Regions from separate parts of the Homo sapiens genome. Here region 1 is linked to region 2. A link means that fine-mapping ties the variant in region 2 to the expression of a gene that starts in the linked region. Tissue or cell type: whole blood. Region 2 holds a variant in brackets; the other region holds the start of a gene. All regions are shown on one strand. Distances are between the middles of the regions. Region 1 holds the start of TPD52 (tumor protein D52). Region 2 overlaps TPD52-MRPS28 (TPD52-MRPS28 readthrough).

What was found.
Region 1: it holds the start of TPD52, and the variant in region 2 is fine-mapped to the expression of TPD52 in whole blood (TOPMed, PIP above 0.99). The same link has a PIP of 0.9 or more in blood mononuclear cells.

What each region holds. Positions count from the first base shown.
Region 1 is chr8:80,168,658-80,174,040 of GRCh38, reverse strand. TPD52 (tumor protein D52) reads left to right here and starts at 2,477. Exons shown (of 8, transcript NM_001025253.3): 1 at 2,477-2,616. The coding sequence starts at 2,598. It overlaps TPD52-MRPS28 (TPD52-MRPS28 readthrough), which reads left to right and starts at 2,477. Exons shown (of 7, transcript NM_001387778.1): 1 at 2,477-2,616. The coding sequence starts at 2,598. RefSeq lists a silencer at 2,316-2,645.
Region 2 is chr8:80,135,606-80,140,988 of GRCh38, reverse strand. All of the region lies in intron 1 of TPD52-MRPS28 (TPD52-MRPS28 readthrough), which reads left to right. All of the region lies in intron 1 of TPD52 (tumor protein D52), which reads left to right. Among named protein-coding and RNA genes, the nearest start is that of TPD52, 33 kb to the left of the region's middle. RefSeq lists an enhancer at 2,361-2,410. The variant G/A (reference allele first, on the strand shown) is at 2,211.

The sequences.
Region 1 (5,383 bases), 33 kb before region 2:
CTTCCTCGTGTTTGCAAAATGGCTATTGCCCCTCTAAGCAGGAATGGGAAGGGTGAAGGGCCAAGTAATGCTGCCAAGTCTGTCTTCTTTTTAAATGCTTTCTTGGAGATTCCAATTAGTACAGTTTGCTCACATCTCATTGGACATTAATGAGAGAGACCCACCTCCAGCTGCAAGGCAGTTTGAAGTGCCCAGTGTTTCAGCTGGGCACATTGCCACTCCAAACAATATTTAGGTTATCTTAGGAAGGAAAACAGGAAGGCTGTTTATCAGGTAGGCTATTTGCCATCTCTGCTGCATGTGAACTACTCTATAAGCTCTTCAAAAGATAAGACTTTTTTTCCTTTCAGCATACATAACAAGTTCATCACTATATAGTAAGTTAAACAGATACAAACAATAAATATTTGTAACGGACACTCACGTTCAAGTGCTATTTATTTGTCCACAAATTAGTACATTGAGAGATTGTCTCTCCAGATGTTTATTTCTATACAATAGATCTCAGCATCAGCTAGTCAAAAATTCTTTACCACATACAGAATTTTCTGCTGATGCCAAAATTTACCTTTATGTTACATTAAAAATTTTTTAAAAAATATTGCACCTTTTTGGGCTCAAGCAATCCTCTTGCCTTAGCCTCCTGAGTAGCTGGGTTTACAGGCAAACACCACCATGCCTGGTTTAAAATTACAATATTTATTAATTGCATGGTAGAATTAAAGGATGCAGAGATGACCAAAATAATCTTTGCCCACCTGGAACTTTTTTTTTTTTTTTTGAGATGGAGTCTCACTCTGTTGCCCATGCTGGAGTGCAGTGGCGTGATCTCAGTTCACTGCAACCTCTGCCTCCCGGGTTCATGCCATTCTCCTGCCTCAGCCTGCCGAGTAGCTGGGACTACAGGCGCCCGCCACCACACCTGGCTAATTTTTGGTATTTTTAGTAGAGATGGGGTTTCACCGTGTTAGCCAGGATGGTCTCGATCTCCTGACCTCGTGATCCGCCCGCCTCGGCCTCCCAAAGTGCTGGGATTACAGGCGTGAGCCACCGCGCCCGACAATTTTTGTATTTTTAGTAGACACAAGGTTTCACCATGTTGGCCAGGCTGGTCTCAAACTCCTGACCTCAAGTGATCCACCCGCCTTGGCCTCCCGGAGTGCTGGGATTACAGGCGTGAGCCACCGTGCCAGGCCTGTTTTTTGATTTTTTTAATAGGCCATTTTAAGGACTTTACCACCTGGAGCTTGTAACCTAATAGGACTGTGAAACATACACTGGTAGCATCCTGGCACCAGTGCTGGGGTGAGTGCCACAGGAGAGGAGCCAAGTGCAGTCAGAGTAGAAGGACTCAAATAGAAGAGATCACATCTGGTTGAGTCAAACAGTAAACGTCCCCAGAAGACACTGGAAGATGCAGGCTGGAGAGAGCTACACTTTACATACAGCACGACAGTATAGAGATATTAATAGCATACAGTCACTTCAGGTAACTACAAGTAATTTTAAAACATCTGAATAAGTGCTTCTTTGTTGTCTGTGGAGTGCTACACAATGCTTCGGCCTAAACGTCAAGCAACACAGAAAAGAAGCCCCACTTCATTTGCAGCCTCAGATAGCTTACGAAATTGAGACACCACCTGAAGACCATGACCCATACAATCAAAGTGACTTCATGGAAGACGAGTAACTGCAAAACCCTGTGAAAACAGATTGTTAACGCTACTAATGAAAAGAACTGGATTGTTACGGGAACCTCAAACTGTCCTTTGATCAACGGACATGACGCCTCAACACGCATTTTCCAAAGATCTCTGCTGATAATTCTGACCTTCGGTTAATTTAATTAATTTCATTTGATTTAATTCATTTTAGTGTTGTCCTCAGTCCCGCACTCAAAACAGATTTTTATTATATGAAAATCTTCCTAGTCACCTAAAAAATCCGCATTCTATGGAAAAGACTATATAATTTTTCAAGAGATTCTTTGCAATTTTCACCTATGCTGGTTTATGACCTAGTTAGAGAAGACATCATAGGGCATTATTTAGGTAATAAAATACAGAGAGAAAAGAGCCACTGGCATTTCTAAATAACGTTCCTGTGTTTCCTACTGTAAGTATAGGAAAGTAGGTGTTCGCAGATGCAGAGAAAGGGCATCTCCAAGGCCTCGGAGGAAACTTTTGATTTTATAAATAACTTGATGGTGGAAGGCAAACGCCATCCCGGTTCCCAAGCAGGCTCCACGCAGCCTCCATGGCCGAGTCCATCTCCTCGCCGTCCTCTTCCCTCCTCCCGGCCGACTTCCAGCCGGTGCGGGAGTCGGGGTGCGCCCGGCCCTCCTAGCGCTGCGCCGCCCGCGCCGACGTGGCGGAGCGCACAGGTCGACCGGGTCAGGTGGTTGGGTGACGCCCCAGGAAAGCGCTCCAGGCCGAGGGCGGGCGGCGCCGCCGCGCCCGACGCCTCTGGGGGTGGGGACTTCGCGGGAGTCGCCGGCGGAGGCGAGGAGGAGCTCTGCGCGGCGCGGCGGGCGATCCGAGCCGGGACGGGCTGCAGGCGGGGGTGCTGCAGAGGACACGAGGCGGCGGGCTGGAGACATGGACCGCGGCGAGCAAGGTGAGGGCGCGGACCCAGCGGGCTTGGGCTCGGGCTTGGACTCGGGCTTGGACTCGGGCTTTGGCTCGGCGCGGGGCTGAGCGCGGCCCGGCGGCTCGAGCAGGTGCCGAGCCTCCTGGGCCGGCGCCGCAAGTTGCATCTCCCGGATCCGGATCTGGCATCCTGGGGCCCTGGAAGGAGCGGCTCTGGCGGGGGCAGATGGGACTGCATGTGTGAGTGTGAGTGTGCGTGTGTGGGGGAGAGGGAGAGAAGGTTCTGGGAGGTGGCGAAGGGGCTAGCGTCAGGGGCTGGCGGCCGTGATGCGCTTTGGGTGGAAAGCCGCGTGAAGGGAGCACGGCGCAGCCAGCTCCTGTAAGTGACTGGAACCAGGAACAGAGGACAGTGAGTCGCTCTCGTCCCTCCAGGTGGGAAACCCCTCTCTCCCTCATAAATTAAGACTTTCTGCCTTCTTCTAAGTTCAGGTGGTTAGGATTTTTGGTGGCGTATGACCCATGGGGGGTTTGGGAGGCAGATATTTATCATACTAGAAACCCCCAGATTGTGGAGTGGTGTCTGTGGGTTTGAGGGAAGAGAGCTTTTCGTAGGAAGGGTGAAATCCCACAACACAAAACCTTCAGTCTAATTTACCATAGCGTTGGGTGCACTTGCTTCTGAAAACAGCTCAAGTGAAATTACCCCCAAATAGAGCAATAGTAGGCCATGGTTTTCAGATTTAAATAGTTTCATCCTAGAGATCTCTGCTGATCATAAGCCTGTGACTGTACGCAGATGTGTGTGGCACGCTTTTAAAAAGATACATAAATGCTGAAAAAAGAAAACAAGGTAGGTAATCTTGGGAAGTGAGGATAGGAATCACTCCTGTTTTGAGCCCTGACACAAGTTTTCATGTATTGCTTATTTTCCTCCAGTATGTGCCGTCATGTGTGCATTTTTATGTAAATCAAACCATATTCCAAATATACTATCTTGTACTTTATTTTTTTCAGACTCTGGTGTTTTTTTTGTTTGTTTTTTTGAGTCTCCACCTGTAGCCCAGGCTGGAGTGCAGTGGCGGGATCTCAGCTCACTGCAACCTCTGCCTCCCTGGTTCAAGTGATTCTCCTGCCTCAGCCTCCCAAGTAGCTGGGATTACAGGTGTGCGCCACCACAGCCCGGCTAATTTTGTATTTTTAGTAGAGACAGAGGTTTCTCCATGTTGACCAGGCTGGTCTCCAAGTCCTGACCTCAGGTGATCCACCCGCCTCAGCCTCCCAAAGTGCTGGGATTACAGGTGTGAGCCACTGGGCCAGGCCTGTACTTTACTTTCATTTACTTGTAAGATAGACTCTTTGGAGTCTTTCAGCTCTTTCCTCGCTCCCCTTCAGATTAATTTCAGACTTAACACAAGTGCTTACAAACATTACATACAATATGCTTTATATGTGTTACCTATGTGTATATATATATTATACATTACCTGTATAACGTATATATACACATACATATTATTATCTAAATTTTAAGCTTCTTGAGGTTAGAAACATTTCATCTTTGGTTGTCCTGAGTGGGATAACATGATGACTTGTACATAGTAGACATGCAAATGTTTGAGTTAGAAAGCTTGTCACATGTCTTGTATATATTGTTAGCCGGCTTAGGGGCCACCATGTAAGTCAGCATTATGTCTGTCTGGCTTTCAATGGGGGCGACGCAGGACGGGGGAGACATGACGACAAACGTGCCCATGTGTATTTGTATACTAATCTGTTACACACTGTCGTTTGACATAATGATGTTTTTAGAATAACTATGTTTGGTACTTGTCAAAGTAAATTAAACGGCTGTGTTTTACTTACGTGAGTGGAGTAACTAGTTTTAGTAGTGTTTGTGTTCTAGCTTGGGTGGTAAGAATCAACAGTCATTGGTAGCACTGCAGTATTCCAACTTCTTGTGTAGTTTTTATAGGACTAGTTTAAGTGTCTAATTCTAAGACATATTTTTTTCAAATCTTTATCTTGTAAGATGAGTCTTTTCGTGTCTATAATTTTCCCATATGTTCTTTGGGTGAGGTGGAGGACTCTGCTCCGAATGAAAGAAGAGGCACTGCCTTGGGAGGGTCAGTTCATTTACTCCAAAGCTTTGCTGTGTTAGAACAACGTGGCCAAGGCTGGGTGCGGTGGCTCACACCTGTAATCCCAGCACTTTGGGAAGCTGAGGCAGGCAGATCACTTGAGGCCAGGAGTTTGACCCCTGTCCAACAAGGTGGAACCCTGTCTCTACTAAAAATACAAAAATTAGCTCGGCGCGGTGGCACCGGCCTGTAGTCCCAGCTATTCAGGAGGCTGAGGCAGGAGAATCACTAGAAACTGGGAGGCAGAGGTTGCAGTGAGCTTAGATCAAACCACTGCACTCCAGCCTGGGCGACAGAGCGAGACTCTATCTCAAAAAACAAACAAACACAAAACAAAACCACCTGGCCATTCCTTACTCTTGCTTCCACCTGCCTACCTGCCTTTTCATCTTTATGTTACCAGTGCACACAGTAGGTGCTTAGAAATATGTGTTGACTGCCTAAGATGAGTGAGGAAAGTGTCCAAGAGCAGGCCCCAGCCATAGTAACCTCTGTGTCCCTCCAAATCCATCTCTTGTTTCCCACTTTCTCCTGTTCTGTTTTCCCTGTCTATTCTCAAGAAGCAGAACTTAGCCAGAGAGTTGCTGATAAGGCAGTGCTGGGCTTGGAGGATAACTTTACATGGAAGATCTTAGAACTAGTAGAGTGGATGACTCA
Region 2 (5,383 bases):
TTCTACACACACACACACACACACACACACACACACACGAGTTGTATTGCCCCTGAAAATGCTCCTCTTGGTCTGTTCTTCCTGCCGGTATGACAGAACTTCCTGAGATTGTTGAGTTTAGGGTTAAATCAAATCTGAGGTGACCCACTCGTTAGTTTGGTAGTGTTTCCCCATCGTTTTCCTGTTGCTAAGTGGTGCAGGAGTAGAAGCTGGTGCAATAGTTTCCTAGAGTGCGGTGCAGCTAACCCTTTTACGTACATCATATTGTTTAGAATTTGTTACCACCTTCAACCAATTCATATAAAAATAGATTACATGTGGGAGTTGTATTTGTTTGTGTGTGGTGTGCATCCAAGTCAGTGTTAATTTTAAGTGAGTGTCCTGCACTCTGGGTGTTTTTCGTAGCTACAAGGAAGCCTTAACCGTTGTTACTTACAATGGATTACTTTTCAAAAGTTGTTTAATCTCTTTCAGGTCATTAATGGCTTGGAGACTAATAAGCAAAACCATTAAATACTACTTTATGTCTGAAAAAAGAGTTAATGTTCCTGGAAAAAGCGAGCTGTTTTCTTTAGTTAACAAGGTGGAGCTGGTGTTCCCAGTGGTTCCGGTTCTAATAAGACTTGATGAGTTGGAAATGATGTTATTCTGGAGACAACTGTGGAGTAATTAGAATTTTACCTCATTTTAATTAAAAGATTCTAACTCTAACCTACCTTCCCAGGCATTTGGGAAAGGCACAGGTAGGTCTCCTTGCCAGTGAGGCTCCACTACTCACTTGTGGGGTTGACATCAGGAGAACCCAGGACTTGGGCCTTAGTGAGGTCTCACGTTCTCACCACTAAACAAAGAGAAAGCATTTATGCAGGCATCGAACCAGCGTCTGTGTGTCACAGCTGGACTGGTGCTGAAAAAATCACCAGGGCCTTAGCATAAAACAAAGGCTGCTTTATTATGTTGAGAGCATAAATAGGCTTCTTTTCTTTTTTCAGTCAGATATGAAATTAGAGTTGCTTACTGCTAACATGGAGCCTGCTGGATTGAGCTGTTTTGCTCACTTCTGCCAGATAATCAGAAGAGCCGGGTGGGGTCCCCTAGCTGGGTGACTGGGAGTCAGGCATCCATCCCCCGAACATCAGGCTCCCCATTTGTAAATGTCTTGTATTCCTGTCAAGATGGTTAGGAGGATTGAAAAACGCCGTTGTATTTTATTTGATTTTGATAATACACTTAACATGAGATCTAACCTCTTAACAAATTTTTAAGTGTATAATGCAGTATTGTTAGCTATAGTGTTCAAGTGCATTGGGAGGCGCTATCCAAATGCAACCCCTTCCCCGCCCTCACCCCCACCCCCCGTTTATTGCTACTTGTTATTTTCATGGTTGTGCTGAATTTTTCCCCAAGGCAAATCTTTACCTCTGCCCTTGAAGTTGCATATGCCCCAGAGTGGGTAATTATTAACTGTATTAATCTGGACCATATACTGTACAGTCTTTGGATAACCTGGACAGTTTATAATTTTAAATGTTTTAAAAGTTTGCAAGTCTGAAACTCTGAAAAAATTTTTTTTTTCATAAAAATACTAGCCTAGGCTGCTGATGGATGTGGGTTTCTTTTTGGGGTATGAAAATTAGATTGCGGTGATGTTTGCATAACTCTGTGAATATACTAAAAACCAGTGAACCATACTCTTTATAAAAAAATAGTGGATTTTATAGTATGCGAATTATTTCTCAAGCTGCTATTAGAAACAAAACACTGTCCTAATTGTTACTGTAAAAATACCCTTATTTTCTCCCCTCCCTGCCAGTGTCTTAGGCAGAGCAGCCATTCAGTAAATACAGGTGGCTGAGTGTTGAATAATATAGTTGAAATAATCCAAGTGGCACAAATAGATGAGAGTGGAAGTGGGGGCTGCAGTGTCAGTTGTAGAAATCTCACGGGAGGCAGACTCATGGGGTGGCTGAGACGGTGGCTCCTTTGTCAGTGGAGGCACTGGAGGAAGAAGACCCCACTAGCAGGAGAGGCTCTGGGTCGGAGGGGCTGCCATGATCCTGGAAACAGGTCATCTGGTTGGCTCGTGTTTGAAAGTTGAGAATACTAATATTTTATGGTCCAAATTTTGGTTACCTTGGCCTTGTAAATCAGGAAGCCGTCTGATGACAGGATGAGCCTAAGGTGGGGAGGGGAGGATGCGGTGAGCCACA[G/A]GTTCTCAATGTTCAGAGAGCCAGTGTCCTTAAATAGCGAGGTGAAGAGCTCAATTAGGAACCAAAGCCAAAAATGAGCTGAGGCAAGATGGTAGAACCCAGGCCTGGATCTGAGCAGTTGTCAAAAGTCTGGTTACAACATTTGAGAGTGTGGTGTTCAGCTACCTTTTTGGATTCAGTTTTAGTTTTTTATTTGCATATTCTTTTTCTTTTTGATAAAGCTCTATGAGGACTATGTTTTCAACTCCCTAGATGCATATAGTCCTGTACTCAGATATAATGTATCTAATCTCTTCCCAGATTTATAATTGCAAACCATAAGCCACTTTGAGTTGTGTTCCAGCACCTGCCGAAGGAGACGACTAAATGATATGAACCCCATTTTCCTCCTAAGAGGGCATTCAAATTCTCTTCCTCTTGGATTTTATGAAATCAGATTTCAGTTGGAAGATTCTGTCACTTGGCCTCTTATTGTCAAACACAGGTACCTTTTAACGCAGACTTCTACTGAGAAATAATTAGAGACAGGGTCTCATGGTCAGGCGCGGTGGCTCATGCCTGTTATCTCAGCACTTTGGGAGGCTGAGGCGAGCGGATCACCTGAGGTCGGGAGTTCACCACCAGCCTGACCAACATGGAGAAACCCCATCTCTACAAAAAATACAAAATTAGCCGGGCGTGGTGGCGCATGTCTGTAATCCCAGCAACTTGGGAGGCTGAGGCAGGAGAATTGCTTGAACCTGGGAGGCGAGGTTGCAGTGAGCCAAGATCGTGCCATTGCACTCCAGCCTGGGCAACAAGAGTGAAACTCTGTCTCAAAAAAAAGAAAAAAAAAAGAAAAGAGACGGGGTCTCATTCTGTCGCTCAGGCTGGAGTGCAGTAGCACAATCATGACTCACTGCAGCATTGAACTCGTGGGCTCAAGTGATCCTCCCGCCTTGGCCTCCCAAAGTGCTGGAATTACAGGCCACCCTACCTTGCTGAAATATTTAAATTCTGAAGGACCAAACTATCCCCTTCTCAAAGAACAATATGAACTAGCACCGTTATAAACTTGGTACTGCTGTAAGAGTCCTACTCCTGAGGGCTTCCACCCATCTTATTTTCATACTTATGAAAAATAATACATGTTCAAAGCAAATGAATCCAAACAGTATGCAATTAAAACTCAAACTCTCTTAGCCTAGACCCATTTCTCCCAGAGCGGCTGTTATGATCAGCCTCTGGGTGTCCTTCCAGAAATGTCTAGGCAGGTAATGTATACAATCACTTTAAAAGTTCAAATGGGAACATGTCATACACATTATTCTGTACTTTGCTTGTTTTAACTGACACGTATCTTGGATATTAAAAAAAAAATCTAACATATAGTTTCCATTTTTTAAGAAAAAAGCTTTATTGATATATAATTTGCCATAAATAATCACCATATAGTTTACCTTAAAATTCACTTGTTTTAAATGTACAATTCAGTGATTTCTAGTAAACTTACAGAGTTGTGCAGTGATCACCACAATCTAATTTTAGAATATTTTCATCACCCTGTGTCTATTTACAGCCACTCCACATCCCGTGCCCGCAGGCAAACACTTATCTATTTAGTTTCTATAGATTGATTTTATTACTCTTTTTAATAGCAACCTGTGGTCCATTTTGGAAAAATACAAACATGTATTTAATTGTGCTTTATCCAAGCACATTTAGCTTTTGCTGATGTTTTATTTTGCTGCCTGCCTACTTTAAAAAAAATTGGAAAAGATTGAAATTTTGTCTTTGAGCCATACTTGTTAAGAGTGATAAGGGAGTTTTAGCTGAAGTTGTTTGTAGATTTTCCAGTCATTACCTGTGGAACTAGGAGAAGAATTTTGGGGCCTGGATAATTATTTATATTTGAATAGAAACTGCCTGAGGTTGTTCTTGATTAGATGAAAGCCCCAGCATTTATTGTGTATTTTATGGATGTGGGTGAAGTGGAACTAAGTATTTACACATGATTGGGGTGAAGGGGGATTTATTATTTCAGTTTTTTGCCTTTGTCTCTACCTAGGAGGATTTTAGGAGCTGTTGAGTGTTCAGAAGTATGTCTTCGGATATATTCTCCATACTGTTTCTTGGGACCTTTTACTGGGTTGTGGATTTTGACCAAGTGTTTTTTTAAGAAGAACAAAGTAGTAGAACAGTATGAGACCAAAATGTCCTTCATGTTCTAATGGTGAGCACTGTTTTCTTTTTTTTTTTTTTTTTTTTTTTTTTTTGAGACAGAGTCTCGCTCTGTCGCCCAGGCTGGAGTGCAGTGGCGTGATCTCAGCTCACTGCAAGCTCTGCTTCCCGGGTTCCTGCCATTCTCCTGCCTCAGCCTCCTGAGTAGCTGGGACTACAGGTGCCCACCACCACGCCCGGCTAATTTTTTGTATTTTTAGTAGAGATGGGGTTTCACCGTGTTAGCCAGGATGGTCTCGATTTCCTGACCTTATGATCCACCCGTCTCGGCTTCCCAAAGTGCTGGGATTACAGGCGTGAGCCACCGCGCCCGGCCATTGTTTTCTTAAATGTCAACTTTTGTTTAAATGTGTGTGTGAGTGTGCTTGTTTTTTTTTTAACCTCAAAGACTGAAATTTTTTTTTTTAATTAATTAATTTATTTTTTATTATACTTTAAGTTTTAGGGTACATGTGCACATTGTGCAGGTTAGTTACATATGTATACATGTGCCATGCTGGTGCGCTGCACCCACTAACTCGTCATCTAGCATTAGGTATATCTCCCAATGCTATCCCTCCCCCCTCCCCCCACCCCACAACAGTCCCCAGAGTGTGATATTCCCCTTCCTGTGTCCATGTGATCTCATTGTTCACTTCCCACCTATGAGTGAGAATATGCGGTGTTTGGTTTTTTGTTCTTGTGATAGTTTACTGAGAATGATGATTTCCAATTTCATCCATGTCCCTACAAAGGACATGAACTCATCATTTTTTATGGCTGCATAGTATTCCATGGTGTATATGTGCCACATTTTCTTAATCCAGTCTATCATTGTTGGACATTTGGGTTGGTTCCAAGTCTTTACTATTGTGAATAATGCCGCAATAAACATACGTGTGCATGTGTCTTTATAGCAGCATGATTTATAGTCCTTTGGGTATATACCCAGTAATGGGATGGCTGGGTCAAAT